Linked DNA regions of Homo sapiens: region 1 is linked to region 2. The links come from fine-mapping of genetic effects on gene expression. Tissue or cell type: sun-exposed skin. Region 2 holds a variant in brackets; the other region holds the start of a gene. All regions are shown on one strand. Distances are between the middles of the regions.

The links. PIP is the estimated chance that this variant, and not a neighbour inherited with it, causes the effect.
Region 1: it holds the start of DRGX, and the variant in region 2 is fine-mapped to the expression of DRGX in sun-exposed skin (GTEx, PIP 0.94).

Annotation. Positions count from the first base shown.
Region 1 is chr10:49,392,898-49,401,074 of GRCh38, reverse strand. It overlaps DRGX (dorsal root ganglia homeobox), which reads left to right and starts at 4,986. Exons shown (of 7, transcript NM_001276451.2): 1 at 4,986-5,140; 2 at 5,554-5,668. The coding sequence starts at 5,635. RefSeq lists a silencer at 2,812-2,971.
Region 2 is chr10:49,325,714-49,333,890 of GRCh38, reverse strand. It overlaps C10orf71 (chromosome 10 open reading frame 71), which reads right to left. Exons shown (of 3, transcript NM_001135196.2): 3 at 6,399-8,177. The coding sequence ends at 7,038. Among named protein-coding and RNA genes, the nearest start is that of C10orf71, 31 kb to the right of the region's middle. The variant A/G (reference allele first, on the strand shown) is at 4,923.

The DNA of each region.
Region 1 (8,177 bases), 67 kb before region 2:
CTCTGCCTCCTGGGTTCAAGTGATTCTCCTGCCTCAGCCTCCCGAGTAGCTGGGACTAGAGGCATGTGCCACCATGCCCAGCTAATTTTTGTGTTTTTATTAGAGACAGGGTTTCACCATGTTGGCCAGGATGGTCTCGATCTCTTGACCTTGTGATCTGCCCGCCTCGGCCTCCCTAAGTGTTGGGATTACAGCCGTGAGCCACCGCACACGGCTGGCACTGTCTTTTAATCCTCCCTCCAGCACTTGATGTGGCATTGTTGTCCCATGTCACACAATGAGAGAGGGATGTCCTGAGAGAGTAAGTGACCTGCTCAAGCTCACTGGTCTCCTGAGGACCGAAGCCTGCTTGAATGGAGGCAGGGGCACAGACTCTGCAGGTGGTGGGCCTTCCTCCTGGGCTGTGCTCTCTTTCCTTGTGAGAGTTAGGAGGCCATGGGCAACCCTCCAAGCTCTGCAGCAAACACAGGGCCAAAGGTTGAAGCTGAGCTCTGAGATCCCTGGGAACCACATGGGAATATACTTTGTCCTGTGGTCACTGGACAAGAACAGGTGAAGTTATTGGAAGTTGGCTTGCATTTGAGCAGCTACTATGTTTTATATGGCAGTAAAACTAGTGAATTATAGGGAATTTCCAGGATGATAAAATGCATATCTATCCCTTGTTGTGTATATATATTTTCTGTTCCTAAGTCCCCGGGAAATCTGGAATTTCCATTAACTGCTATGTCCTTCACATATTCTCTCATGTTTAGCTTAGCTAAGCTAACTTTTTTGGCAATTTCCAAAACTACAATATAACGATAGATTTGCCGACAAGTAGAGAATACGCCATATTCACACTGAGATATATCCACCGGGGATTATGCTAGAGAGCCTTTAAAACATTTGTAAAAATATCAAACCTGGGCCCTTCCAAAACATATAATTAGGAATTCAGTGTGGTTTTTTCCTCCCTGATAATTTAAGTATTTTACCTGCTTTACCCTCTTGCTATGGGTTTAAGCCATGTGTACTGAAGTCATTTCTGCTAAGGAAAGTTTTAAAAGGGAGGTTGTGAAAATCCTTTCTGAGCACAATTAAGATGTCAAATCCAACACATATTTTTGTATTTGGGCTCAAAAGATGAGGACAGAGGTGTCTCCAAATATTTTCCCAATTTTCCTAAAACAAGGCAAACAGTAAGAAATGAATACTATGTATGGTATTTAAGACCCAACTCGGAGCCTTCAAACCCCTACATTTTCTAAGGATTTGGAATTCTTTTCAGGAATCAATTTAAAATGATTCATAATTCAACTGAAAACAATTGAGGGCTTAGATAGATGCTCGCATTTCCAGCTTTTTATTGCTGCTCTTAGTGTTTCTGAGATGACAGTTTTCCTTTCATAGAACCAGCTTAAAATTAGAAAAATCAAACACCCATTAGAGAAAGCAGATTTACTCTGCTATTAATTGATATAGAGATGTAAAACTTCCATCACCTGGGCAGAAGCCTAGCGCATCCCTGCAGACAGTTGCAGTGGCTAGAACCTGGGGGGTCAGCAGCCCACTCACTGGGCCTGAGCTGGAGCTGTCAGCCTTTGGGAGCCAAGCCTCGAATTTTCAGCACTAAGACATGCGGCTCTGGGGGAGCTGCATCTGTAACAACATCTGCACGCCAGTCTTCAGGCGTGTTACTGTCTTCCCATTTTATTTTTAAAAACATGAACAACTTTGAAAGTTGAACTCCCCACCCTGAGCTGGCTTCTCTCTTCCCTATGGGACAGGAGGCAAAGTAGCACACCCTATGTAGCAACCAGGAAATGATTCTCGGGAATGCAGATGCTGTGGCTGCGGGTATGAGATGCGGAGAGAAGGGGCACTGAGGACCCAGGATTGTCTCCCTACAGAGGCGGGAGGCAGGCTAGGTGAGGGCGGGGAGCGGGGGAGGGGGTGGGGAGGACTGTGAATCTGCTGAAATATGACCCCGCGGTTTTAACTTTAAATAAGCATTTCTGTCCTAGTGGAAGCCCCTCTAATGTCTCCTGCAGCTTTGATTTTGGAACACGTCACATTCCTCATTAAAGCAATCACTGTTAAAACATAAAGCAACACAGGATTTATTTCTTCATTAAACTGATGATCCGTATATGAAGCCAATTAACATTATGAGTCTGGTGAACATCAAGTGTAAAGAGGTTAGAGAAAATTAAAAGCAGTCACCTTGGTCTTTAGATAAAGAAAGTACACTTTTAGGTTGTAAATTATCAGAGTGTCCAAGCGAGACAGATCGGCGAATTTGGTTAATTGGAAAATACATTTTACCGCACAAAAATTAAGGAAAAATAACCTTTTCGTTACTAACGCCCTTTTTTAGGGGGAGGGGGACCGTAGCGAACACCTATTAGTCACCTTCTCCCGGGTGTCGAGACATTCGGAAAAAAAGGGGGCTGGCGTCATCAAAGTTTGGTGCAGCCTTTCGTTTCTAAGGTTGTTTGGTTGTTTGTTTACTCGCTGTTTTGCCAACGGGAAGGAGCCCAGCCTAGCGGCTCCGGGAGAGGAGCGCCGGGCGAGGCGAGGCCGAGGGTCCCAAGCCGGCTTAGAGCCCCCGCGAGGTGGGTGTGTTGAGGGAGCTCGGCTGGTTATCTAGTCAGTGAGGCGGCCGGACTCTCCTCGGGGGCCGCGAGATGGTTTCCGGCTGCAGCGGCCGGGTAGGAGCGGCGCGTGGTACTGCGGAGAAGGGAGTTTTGTCTCTGTTGCCAGCGCTGAGCGCATGTCCGGAGTAACTTTCGCAGGTTTGGACTGGGAGAGGATTGGGGTCGGTCCCCGGACGCCTGGGGTCCGGCCGGGCGGATCCCACCCCTGAGCAGCGAGGGGCCCCGGCTGGGCCCCCGGTACGGCTTCTTTCTCCGCAGCAGCCGGGGGTGGGTGGGGGTGCGGAAACCGGCGCCGCTGTCCAGGGTTCTGACCTGCCGGGTTGCTCGGCGAGCGCGCCGTCCTCAGACCGCGCAGGTCTGAGCCTGTCTCATCCGCGCCGGATGAGCCTGTCTCGTCCCGGGGTCATCTCTGGGCCTTAATAGGAACTTGCCTCGGTCGATGTCAGGGATGGGGAACTGAGACTGGCGTTTGGACCTCATTGGTTTCTGGGGCCAACACTGCACCCCGGGCTGGGCTGCTGCCGCTGAGGGTTCCCGCACACACCCCCAGGTGCGCCTGAGCATCTTGGCCGAGGCGGCCCAGAAGCTGTCCGCACCTCACTTCACGGCCACCGGGTTCCCAAAGCGCACAGGCAGGGAACTGCTGCCTAGGGCAGGAGGGAACCCGAGGGGACTTTCGGCAGACCTAGGCGGCAAGAGGAGCCTCGGGCTCTTGTCAAGAGCTCCAGAGAGCAGGGGCCCTCTGAGGGAGACAGGGAGAGAGACAGCGCGCGCGAGCCAGTCTCTTGACCTGGGCTAAGGGAGGATCAGCTCTAGGGGCTCCCAGCCCTCTTGGCATGACGTAGGAAAGGCCCTCGGCTGCCCTGCCGGCCCCTGCCTGCCACCTCACCCGCCTTCGGGACCTGCTAGCCGCTCCTCCCGGGCCGGCTGCCTGGACTCTCGGAGTCGGTGGCCCTGGCGGAAATGGCGCCCCGAGCTCTCTCCGCTCTGAAACGAGCGGAAGTTTCCTGTGATTCTTTCCCCGAGGCAGAGCAGACTCTGCTCTGGAGCGACTGAGCCCAGGAAGGGCCGCTTCACTGGAATAGATCCTGACTTGCCTCGACCGGAGCGGGACTGGTCTTCCTCCCGGCTGTTTTCGGAGGGGCGTCAACGGCGGCCGGGACCCAGCGCTCTGTCCTGCAGCTCGATGCTCCTTGCCCAGCGCTGGTGTCCAGCGGCGGGCCTGCCAGGCCTTTTGTTTCCAAAGCGCTGCGTCTTTAAGATCAAGGCTGTATCCCGGGCCGTGCAGGGACCCGACCCACCACCTCGCCAAGGCTCCCTAACGCAGCATTAGAATGTTTATAAAATATTCAATTTATGTAGTCTGTCCAAGAAGCCATCGTCCCAAAATAAAATCAGCAGTCTAGACGGAGCACAGACACCAGAACTTATCAACAGTTGTCTGACTTGCATCTTCTGATGCATCTTGAGTGGGTCATAATACCAACTTTATTTTCAGTGGTGCATAAATTAATTACACGCATTTAATAACCAAAATATCATTATATTCCCCCTTTAATATCATAAAGGCTTTCCGCCAGGGAAGCACTTAATAGTGCAGGGGGCCGTAACGGGCTATTATCCTGGTGTAATGCTATTACAGAACCAATTATGCGCCATTAGACTTGCTTTTTTTGCAGTTTATGTGATTTGATCCAATCCCGCGCCCCTGACTTGAAAATTTCAGCCCGGTACTTTAGAGTTTAATTTTCACCCAGGCAGAGAGAAGGGCGGTCTCTCTCCGTTGAGTGTCTGCCTCGGATGCATTTTAAAAGTAATTGCAAAGGGTCCCACCGCATATCATTTGCATCGAGAAGCGAACATAAATTCAGGGACCCCTTGCTGAGAACAAAATCAAACTTTCCTTTTGTACGATCGTTTGGAAAGGGAAGCCGTGTGCAAAGAGTCCCCCCAAAACCCATCCGGCGGCGACAATTAGCAGCGCTTTGCCAATTTGCAGCCCGGGAGTCACCAGGCCTTTGATAAGGGCAGCCCAAACCAGGCTCTCTCGGAGAAAGGTTTGCCTCTGAGGGGACATGAGGTGGGGGGTGGGGCCTAGTGTGTTTTCGGAAAATGTATGTTTTTGGGGGTGATGGTGGTGGTGGTTGTATCGTTCTCTTTTAAAAGAGGAAAAAGCATTCCTGATGTTTGCTGAGAAATGACGGATTTTTTTTTTAACACCACGTGGGCCATTTGTAAGGCCCAATAGACCTATCCAAGTTACTCGCTGTAGACAGCGCTGGAAATAATCAGATTAAGGCCAATTATGCGTGAGATTATAAAGGCGAGTGCTGAGCGGCGGCGCGCGCTGCAGACAGACAGCAAGACATCTGGCCACTTCCCGAGTCACTTCTTTGGTCCTGCGGGCGCCAGCCGCGCCGAGCCCCGCCCGCCGCCAGCCGAGCAGGGCTTGCGGATCGGAGGCGGTCACGCTCCGACCTCCTCGACCGCCGCCCGCCGAGGTATGCTCGGCTCCTGACCCACTCGCCGGGCCCCGAGCGCCGGGCCTTGGGGCTCGGCTGCCTTCCTGGCCTGAGCTGCAGCTCGCAGATGGCCTTGCGCGCTAGCCGGACCTGGCTGCGGTGGCCCGGGTGCAGGGCTTCTGGCTGGGACCCCAGAGAGCCAGAAACTACGCTGCGGGGTTTGGTGCTGGGGCCAGGGTGAGGGCACGGCCGTCCGGGAGGTGGACACACCCGAAGGACTGCCCTGTGGGGTTGCTGCTTGCGACGGGGCTGCCGCCTTCCCTCCTGTCCCCCGCAGTGAGATGAGGGCGTTGGGAGGGACTTTCCAGGAGGGGAGCGCCGGGTGCGCCCTAGGGCTGGGCGGGAGCGCTGGCAGAGGGAGACTTGAAGCTCTATCGCTGTTTGCTTTGCAGCCAGGCAGGAGCAACGCGCGCGGGTCCGTTCTGCTGCCACCCTCCCAGGTCTCGGCCGTCCAGCCGATCTGACAGCCGGCGATGTTTTATTTCCACTGCCCGCCACAGCTAGAGGGTAAGTAAGCGCTGCGCCCCAGGGTCTCCATGAAGCCAGAGCCGGCCAGAAAGGGCCGGAGCGGCAGCAGGGCTGGTGGGTGGCTGGGTCCCCGCCCTGCGGGGGGCGCAGCCGCCTGCCGGTGAGTAGGGGCCTCCCTGGACCCCTCCCTACACCCCACTCCAGGCCCGCTCCAGCTCCCCGCCCCGTCGCCACCTGCCTCCCAGCTCCCTCCCCGCCTGGGCCAGGACGCCCCGGGCTAGGCGTGCCGCGGGGACCGGCCGAATCCTCCCAGCACAGATGCTGGTGTCACGCCTCTAATTGGGGCTCCGCAACCCAGGGGGCCGCATCAATCTTTCACGGTGCTTCTGCAAACATCCCAGAAAGCAAAGGCGAGTGGACCCGCCGCGTCCTGGCCCAGATCACGAGCTGCACGAGCCTACAAGGGCCCGTCGCTGGGCTGCTCTCACTGGGGCCGCTGGCGAGAACACTGCAGGGGCCTCTTCCGCCCTGGATTCTGGGCAGCTCAATTCCCTTCCCGGCCTCCTGGCCGTCCCTGGAACCAGGTGGCCCTGCCCACCACCTGCCCGGACTGACCTAGCATGGCTCCTTCTCTGTGACTCACTAACCCTAAATGTCGACCACTCCCCACTCCCCAGGCCAGAATTTCCATCTTTGAGTGTCTCCAGGCCTGAGAAGAAATTTCCCCTCAGGATCCCCAGTCTGGCTTCTGCACCCAGTTGTTAGTGGGGGCGTGGGTTGGTGAGAAGGGGACAGTTGGGACCTCAGCATGCCCCTGCTCAGGACCCGAGGGATCCAAGGATGGGGTCTTCACATCAGGGGGCCAATTAGTAGCCATCAGGTGAGCCAATGCCACACTGTGGGCTTTAATGGGGCCTTCTGCAGAGCAGCAGTCTCAGCACTGGGGTATTGGGACTTTTGTAACCGTCGGACTGGCATTTGGCAACCTACTCGTTTGATTTATTATTGTGGTGGGAGAATTTGGGAAGCCAAGTAGTTGTGGGAGACAAGGGGCAGGGTATATGTTGTGAGGCGCTAGGAGACCTGAGACTTCAGGTGATGCTTGTCAGTCTTGCTGCAGGCTGCCCTGAGCAGTGGCTGAGCCTCAGAAAGTTTGTTTTTGTTTTTCTCATAAAAGCTCTTAAGAGTCCAATAGGATTTTCTAAAGGAGGCTAATGAGGACCAGTGTTTAAGCCCTGCTAGCTCTGTCAGCATTCCTAGGAAGGGAAGGCCACACATTTGCCTGCATTTCACATTTTATCCCCAAGTTCCCATGCAGGGTGGGTTTTATGGAAGGGTGGGAGACGTGCATCCCCTGACAGTGTACCCTAGGGGATGAGGGAGACTTTCTGTATGTTAAGGGTGCCTTCTCTGTGCATCTGAACCAGGGGTCTGGACTAATTGCCAGCCAGTGTCCCACCCTTCTGGTCAAAGTGGGTAAGGCAGAAGTTTGGGCATTTGGCAGGTAGGGGACGTCATGAATGTCTGTCTGCGGGGTGGACTGCAGCAGTGAGTTAGGGAGAGTCCTGGCCTGGCCTGCGGTGACCCCAGCTCTCAGCCCAGCTCAGCTGGCTTACTGTGCTCCCCACACCCTGGGCACATCCCACCTCAGTGCTGACTCTGTGATATAACCAGAAGAAAAGGAGATGGGTCTTTAAGAGCCTTTCATCCCTTTGTAGATGTGATTCTATGCCAGTTTTGCAGAAAGGAGTAATTTAGTTTAGTTTAGTGTTGCTGGGTGAAAGGGATCTCCCGCAAATGGAAAAGTTGAGAACAGACCCTTGGAATATGACATAATTATAGCCTATCATCTTTTTTATTTTAATTTTTTGTTAATCTAGATAGGCATAAGGGAGAAAAGAAAGAAAGGCTCATAATCTTACTTCTCAGATAATTTTGCTGATGTTACATTAAAAAGTACTACTGGCACCTGCCTGAGAAGTTTGAATACAACAGAAACTTATACATTGAAAAGCAAAATCCTCCTTTTCCACCTCTTTTCCTAAAAGTATCTGCTATTTTTTTTGTGATTCCTTCAAGAAAAACATGATTTAATTCTCATTTATGTATTTTTAAAATATGTGTTTTGCCTTATTTGCACTGAAATTATATTGCTACATCATTCTGTACTTTGCTTTTTTTACTTTGTAATATATCTTGGAGATTTGTTCATGCCAATGCATATAGATCTACTGATTTCTTTTAAACTGCTGTGTAGTATTCCATTGTATGTTGTGAAGAAAGCATCTGCTGATGGGCATTTTGGTTGTTTTCATTTTTTTTCAACTACAGTATTTCCAGAAGCACTTTTTTTTTCTATTTTGGCACACATTACAAATATATTTATAGATTAAATACCTGTATGTGTACTTACATTTTTGATGGATGTTGTCAAATTACCTTCTAATAAGGCTGTACCCAATTTGTACTCCTACAAATGGTGAATAAGCCTGCACATCTTATGATACTCATATCTGTACTGGGTGTCTTTATGCACCTCATTTTTTCT
Region 2 (8,177 bases):
AAGAGATGCCAGCAACAGTCCTGTGAGGGATGATGGTGGGTGCAGATGGATGATGGACTGATAAATACCTGGAGGTATAATTGACAGGTTTGGGGCCTAACTGAATTGGGGGCAAGAGATTGGGAGCAGGTGGGATGGCAACCAGGACTATGGCTTGGACCACCAGGCAGTGTACAATTTCTCTACACCCTCGCCAACACTTGCTATTTTCCATTTTCTTTTTGATAGTAGCCATCCATTGGGTATAAGGTGGTATCTTATTGTGGTTTTGATTTACATTTCCCTAATGATTAGTGATGTGGAGCATTGGTCTAAAGGTTTCAATCAAGAGGTATCCGCCTTTTGGGAAACCAGCACATTGGACAGTGGAGATGTGGTAACTGTGTGTGGGTCAGAACAGATGGGGGCGCCCACTGAGATCAACTTGCCCTGTGCATGGAGATGTAGTAACTGTGTGTGAGTCAGGACAGATGGGGGGTGGGGGCACTGCGATCACCTTGCCCTGTGCAGGGGTCACTCCTCACACAAGTACATGAAGACTACAAGTGCAAGAAAGCAGCAACGAGGTCTCCACTTCTGTCAGCACTGGCTGGCAGTCTCTGCTAGAAGCCAACTGTTCGATTAACTATTGACTTGGCCTGCTGACTTTTTCAGGCTACATCAGTGAGGAGGAATGGGCTGGTAAAAGCACGGGAATGCCAAAGGAGACTGGTGACGTATATGGCCTTTGTAAATGGGAAAGAGGACCACACGAGCCAAAGGTTTCCAAATTCAGAGGAAAATAGAAGAATGATCACGAATGACAGGAAGGCAGGTGCTGACAATGTTCTCATGAAGGGGCCTAAGGGAGGGCTCTGAAGCTCAGGAAGGATGGCCACAAGCGGTGGGAGTTGGGGCTGGGACCCAGGAGCAGGACTGATGCCAGACAAGGACCCAGGGAAATGGCATCCATGTGACAGTGCCCAGAGCAAGCTGAGGCTCGAGAAAAATTCTGAGACAGTGCAAAGACTTAAAAACTAAACCACAGTTTGGCAAATGATGAGCACAAGAAGGTTAACTCCCTGTTTGGGGATAGTGGTTAGTGGAGCACCTTCATCCTCGGACATCTACTTGCGTAGGTCAGAGCCCCAGGCTTCACCCAGTTTAAAGTGTTACCCTAAAGTGTGGTGCGTTGACATGCTGAATACTTTGAACTGAAGAAGCAGCCCCAGAACCAAGGTCCCTCTGACCTTCTCTAGACCCTGTCCCACACCTCTTTGCCTCTCCCGAAGGGCAAGGAGGGGCTTTCTTGACTAAGGGAAGTTCCTCCAGAAGGAATGCAGTTGTCTTGGACTCCCTTCCCTAGCTTGTCAAACAGAGATGAACTTACAGGAAAGAAGGCTTGGAAAGACGACTGGAGTGGATACCACACCCGGGACCCAGGGGAACTTTGCTCTAGGCCATTGTCTGTTCTTTGGACCCATTTATCTTCCCTAAAAAATCATTTACTCTTCCTCAGAATTGCAACCCCCAACTCCCTCTCCTCTACAAAGAGGATATTTAAGTTTCAACCATCTGGTTCTTCTTAGAGTTGCACACTTCGTGCAACTCCCCTGGGCTTGCATGTTAATAAATTTGTAGGCCTTTTCTCTGGTTAATCTGTCTATTGTCAGTTTATCTCAGCAGATTCAATTATGGAACCTTCAGAGGGAAAGTTTGAACTTTCCTTCAAAGGGAAGTCTTTATTTCTAACAATGCCCCTCCTCCCTTCTGTGGAAGAGTAGCCTCCTGATAGAGCTTTGGGGCACACCTGGAGGAGGAGAGGAAGGTGTGGCAGCAGGAAGCAGGCCAGGTGGCTCTGCGCAGGGCTGGAGGCTGCACTGGGTGGCCCTCAAGGGCTGTCATACCTTTCCCCATTCACCGCTTCCACATGAAGAAAGTAGTGCCTCTGAGTTCTTCTTGCCCCAGGTCCTACCTCCACATAACCTTCCACAGGAGGGTGTTTCCCCTGAGCAGAACTCTGGGCCTGGCAGCTCCTGGCCAGTATGTGGGGCCCAGATGTGGAACTGTGCTCTGGAGTGGCATTTGTGAGACTGGTTTAACCAGAAACTCCCGGGAATTTGCACCTCTGCATTGACTCTTTCCCACACTTGGAGAATCTGATGAGGTGAATTGGAAATAGGGCTGGGATGAATAACAAGTGTTAACAAGTGCACAGATGATTCTGAGGCCCAGGCAGGCTGGAGCATTCTGCTAGAAGCCAGCAGCTAAGGGAGGAGCCCACCCATCCACCTGGTGGAAGGGAAGACCCCTCTGCTCAGGCGGCTCTGTGAGGTGACACTGAGGAAGCCTAAACAAGACTCTGGTGGTGACAAGCTCAGGGATGTGGCTCCGAGTTTGCTCCACTCACTTTGGACTTCACATCTGAATGATTTGGAAGACCTGTACAAACAGGTGTGTTCAACTTCATGGTGTATCTAGGCCAAAATGTTTCCTACATGCACAGAGTTCAGGTTTTGCCACAGAGCTCCCCTTTTGTATGCAAATGTTTTCCATCATGTGCCTATGGCCACTCCTTGTTGAGACCTTGCATCCTTGCCGGTGGCATACTGGAGCCCCAAAAGTAGCCTGGGGTCCCAAAAGATAGTTAGGTCCCTTCTGATACCTGAATCCATCCTTGTCTTAGGAAAGGGGTCATCAGCTTCCATTGTACATTTCCAGTGGCAGGGAGCTCAGTTATCCCTAGCAGTTGACGTAATGTCAAGACGATCCTAGTGGCTGGATGTCGTGGCTCACGCCTGTAATCCCAGCACTTAGGGTGGCCAATGTGGGTGGATCACTTGAGGTCAGGAGTTCGAGACCAGCCTGGCAACATGGCAAAACCTCGTCACTACTAAAAATACAAAAATTAGCCAGGTGCGGTAGTGCGCACTTGTAATCTCAACTACTCAGGAAGCTGAGGCAGGAGAATTGCTTGAATCCGGGAGGCAGAGGTAGCAGTGAGCTGAGATCGAGCCACTGCACTCCAGCCTGGGCAACAGAGTGAGACTCTGTCTCAAATAAAAAAAAAAAAAAAGATGATGCTCGTCCTCAGAGATGCCTTTCTCACATTGAGTGTCAATCATCTCCCTGCAACTCCCCCACCTAGATGTGCTGCTCTCTTCCTTTGCACAAGACATTGCTGTGGAGACATGAAGACATCCAGTGCACCTCCCCAAAATTTATACAGGCTAAGCAGAGACTGACAGCACTTAGAATTCAATGCACAAATGGATCAACCACCCAGGGAAGCTTGTGAAGATGGAGATAGGGATTCTGGACTTCTCACAAGCCCCTGGTGATGTGGAGGCTGCTGCTGCAGGGACCGCACTTACGAAGTACTGGTTGAGTATTAAAGAGTCCACCTAGAAGTAAGAGGGGCCCAAGACCCTGGCATGGCCCCTCACTTAGTGGCTCTGTGACCGTGGGCAGTTACATCCCATCTTGGCACCTTTGTTTCCTTTACAGTAAAATGAGGCTAATGAGGGCCTCTCTCAAGGGCTTGCTGGGAGGACCAAGTCCAGGCTCAAGCTCCCCACTCATGGGCCAGCGCATGGTACATGTTTGACAATGTGAGCCCTTGGTCATGTTTAGTTGAACAACCCGGGACCTTCAACTGTTTCCTGGAGGTGCTCCACCTCCATGTCCTCTCCCCAGGAGACATTTAGAGGGGTCATACTCATAGAAAAGGGCCAGGGTACTACACAGAAGATGCAGACAACATCTGTAATTTCCACAAACAACATGTTGTCATAAATCTCACCACTGTCCTACTAAACACAATGGCAGAAATAGTGGTTTTGCTGGGCAACCCCTGTGAGTGAAATATCAATTCAGAAGCTGAAAGACCTATCAACCAAGGTCTATCCTGTGAGGCTACACTGGTTCAGCTTTTGTGCTGATTAGAAATGCTGATGAACAGTTAGCTAAATTAATATGCTTTGATATAGCAAGACAAATCTATTAGTATTTAATCAATGTCATCTTTGATAGATTAAAGCTGGGGAAATTCTGAATTTTTTCATAAATTAATGGACAGCTTTGTGTTTCTTGACTTGGCTCAGGTGCCAACCCCTGAAGCCAGAGCAAGTTAGGTGTTCCTCAGAACAACCTATTAAATTACGTAACATGTGGGATTGTAATTATCTTTCTTCTCTGTTAGATTTTAACTCCTTGAGTGCAGAGACCAGATCTTATTGTCATGGTACCATCAGCGCCCATCAAAGTGCCTGGCACAGTGCAAATGTTTGTAAAAGGGAGGGAGGAAAGAAGAAAGGAAGAGAGAGAAGGAGAGAGGGAGGGAAACAAGGAAGGGAGAAAGAAGGAGGGCGTGAGGAAGGAAGAAGGCATACATGACCTCCCTCAGGAGCAAATGGAAAGAGGAAAACATCACTGGCTAGTGAGTTGGGCTTCACTGGATGGAGACTCTCTGCTTGTGTTCCCTGGAGGCATTCTGTGCTTCAGGAAGACAGGCCCAGTGCTGTAAGGGAGTGAGGCGTCCTTCTAGCTGACTTGCTGGGAGCAAGACTTTATGTGTTTAGTTCTACCCACAGCCTTGCCAATATTGGTTCTAAGGAAGAAGATCGCTTCCCCAAAATAAGTTCCCCAAAGTAATATTTTCTCCTGTGGGGACATAGTTACTATAACCGTGGTTCTTATTGAACAGATGGACTCTTCCTTCGTTAGACAATTCTTTTCCTTGGACCCTGAGAATTGCAAAATGAGATATTCCTTCTCATGTTTTAGTGAGATGAAAACAAAGTGGAGAGGATGCTTGAGGTGATTTGGAGGCAGGCCAAAATGCAGCTTTGTTCTTGTCGCTTGCACCCAGTGAGCGACTCATGGGAACCAGATTTTGGGATAGTGATCTGCTTGCACTCCTGGCTGGTTGCGTGGCTGGCAAC[A/G]GGTGTGGCCAAATTGAATGGCATTGGTTGGGAGGAAAGGAGGGGGCGTTGTGTGGTATTTTCACAATGAAAATCAGGTGTGGCTGCACTTGTTGGGAAAACAAAAAGGTATAAAATCTTGAATCCAAATCAAAGCCCCTGTATTTGTGTGAGTCTGGGACTTGGTTTACTGAATGCCTCCCCATCCTCCCAGTGTGGAAATGGCGCCTTTGCCAACAGGACAAGGACAATGCATCTTGCATGGTCCCCTGGGCCCTGGGCAGCATAGTCCTGGCAGCTGCTGAGGTTTCTAAACAAAGAGGGAGGCACGTTTTGCCCCTGTGTTTCCAGTAGAACAAGAATTAAGAGGCTTCTGTAGAAGCCGTGGCATGGAAACCTATCAATACCCTGGGTGCTGGTTTCCTTCCTAGCCGGCTGCCTGCAAGAGGGCACCTGTTCTGAAGATCGAGCAGGGTCCCCTCCCCAACCATGGAAATACAGGAAAATCTTGGTTTCCTTCAAGGGAAATTCCAGGCACTTAGCTAGCCCTAAGAAGCCAATGAACAACTTGATAAGCAGGAAGGTAATAATAACCTAAAACAACAGCGAAGGAAGCCAGAGTCCTGGGGTGTTTTGTTCCCTCTGGAAATTAAAAAGAACATCTCAACTTCTGACTCCGAGTTGTTTTTCAGAAACCCAGACCCCCACCAAACGGATCCACTGGCACAGAGACCTCAGAGAAGAGGGAGCTGAGGACTGAACTCTGAGCACGGCTCTTTGTTCTATATTTCTTCCTGGGGGGCCTGGGGGAAGTCCCACCCACAAGCCAGAGCTAACATTCCTTTCTGCTAACCCAAATTTTAAAACAAAGCTTCTCTTCCTTAACCAATTGCAATTCAGAAAATGTTTGACTCCACCCTATGACCCGTAAGTCCCTGGTTCAAGATATCCTGCCTTTTTAGGCCGAACCAATGTGTACCCTCCATGTGTTGATTTACAATTTCACCTGTAACTTTGGCTTTCCTGAACATTTCCCTTGCCATTAAAAATCCATGCTTGCAAGCCACGGGGGAGGTTGGGTTTTAAGCGTGAGCTGCCTGATTCCCCTTGCTTGGTGCCCTGCAAATAAACACCCTCCTTTCTCCCACTGCAAACCTCAGTGTGGATTTTGGCTTTACTGTGCTGGGCCAGTGGATCCGTTTCATTAGGTAAAACTCTCAAACTCTTCAGTTAATCCCAACACTTCCCTCCAAATCCCCAAAGGTCAGGAACTGATGGGGGGTGAGGGTGTGAACACACTTTCTTTTTGAGTGGAGGGCACAGGTACTGGTTACTAAATCAGGGCAGTCAGGACCCACTGGAGGGCCTGGCCCTGAGAAGGCATGGACAGGTGTTGAAGGGACAAGGTGGGACGCCAGACTCAGACTGTGGTAGACAGGGAGGTGGCTCTGTCAGCCCTGACCCCTACTGCCCACAGAAGGAAGACAGGAGTCCAGGAAGAGAACCGTATCTGCAAACTTGTTTCACTTTTTAAAAAGTGGGCCTTTTCTTGATCAGAAAATAGCTTTCAGAGGCAAGTTTCTCCCTGTGAAGGAAACCCATTCTGTGCAAATGATCATTTCTGCAAAATTGCCCTGGGCTGGTCCTTAGCCAGTCTGCCTGAGTTGACCTGAATGCCTGCTGAGTCTGAGCTGGGGGCCTTAGGGGTTTGCTCATCAAGGAGCTTACAAGTGAGTGGGTGGGTGTGGGTACAGAGGGACACTTGGGACCAGGCGGTGCCCTTGCCACACCCACCTAATTTGCAGGGCGAGGGAAGAGCAGGGTGGGCCAGGAGAGGGAGGAAGGGAGGGAGGGAGAAGGGCTGGAGTAGAGTGCGCCTGGGAACTGGCACGGAGGGGACCGGGCCAAGCAAGCAGTGCCCCTCCATCAGAGGAGAGCCAGGGAGCCCTTTGGGTGAGGTCGTCTTGGGATCCCTACTGCCTTCTGGACTTTATGGATCTAAAAAGGCTAAGTATGTGTTGATGATCGTGTGTGTGTGTGTGTGTGTGTGTGTGTGTGTGTGTGTTGCTTGTTTTGGGGGAGGGGGAAGTAAGCTCCTCTGGGTTCATCTGGGGGTGGGGGACAGCCTGCAGTAACTCAAGAAATGCCTTCTGTGGCAAAGTCCTCTAGGTCATCAGTGGAGATGATGCCCAGGCCTGGAGCTTCTACACCCTCCTCTCCTGGGCTCTGGGGAGGACCATGAGGGCGCTGGCCTGCAGAGTGCGGGGTGCAGTCACCGTGAGGCCCTGGGTCCAGCTGTAGTCCAGACTCGTGGACACTCTGGGTCCTGGCGCGGGCCGCGGAGGCACGAGGGCCCTGCCTGAGGAAGGTGGGCGCGGAGAGCTGAGAGGAGCAGCGCAGCGGCATCAAGGCCGTCACGGGCACTGGCTGGAAGCCGGGGTACAGCACATAGGGAGCGGCCAGGGCGTCCGGTGGGGGCGGCTCTGGGGAGGCCCCCTCGGAGGACGGGATGGAGACCTTGACATACTTGCCCGTCTCTGGGTCATAGAAGGTCTTGATTTTCACCTGGAGTGGCAAGTCGAAGACAAAGTACTCCCCGGACTGCGGATCCTGGAGGACCTTCTGGGTGGCGGGGTACGCGGGCAGGGGTGTGAGGGACTGGGGGCCCCCGGGCCGCCTCCCGACAGGCTCCGAGAAGCCGGACACGGAGTGGCGGTGCACGGGAGGGGGCAGGGAACGGACCACGGGGAAATTGTGTCGGGGCCTCTCTCTGGGGCACAGCGGCCTTTGCTGTGTCTGCTCCAAGTCCTCCGGGCAGGGCTTTCCCTCCTGTGACTCGCCATGCTTCTCCTGAGCCTGATCCGTCTTCCTCCTCTTACTTGCCAGCTTCTTTGCCCGCCGCAGGGCTTTCTCTGTTTTGGGTGGGACTGCAGGTGGCTTGCTTGCTGTCCTCTCTAGCTGTGCAGGAAGCTCAAGTCTCCCAGAGGTGCCTGCTGGGCTGGTGGCCACATCCAGCAATGAACCTCTTGGAGAGAGGGTCCGGAGGTCTTCTGCCGACAGCTCAAGTAGGGGGTCAGAGCCGCCCTCCCACACGAGGGCGTGGGTCAGGTCCTCCCTCCGGGTGACCCTGGCAGGACTGGAGCTGGCCCAGGGGCTGGCTTGATTAGGCTCCTCGGGAAGCAGCTCTGGTCCTCCAGGGGCCTGGGAAGACTCCTCCCAAATGTTGCTGGCAGCAGGGGAGCAGGCACTGCTCTCCCCGGGGGAGCCGGGGTTGGG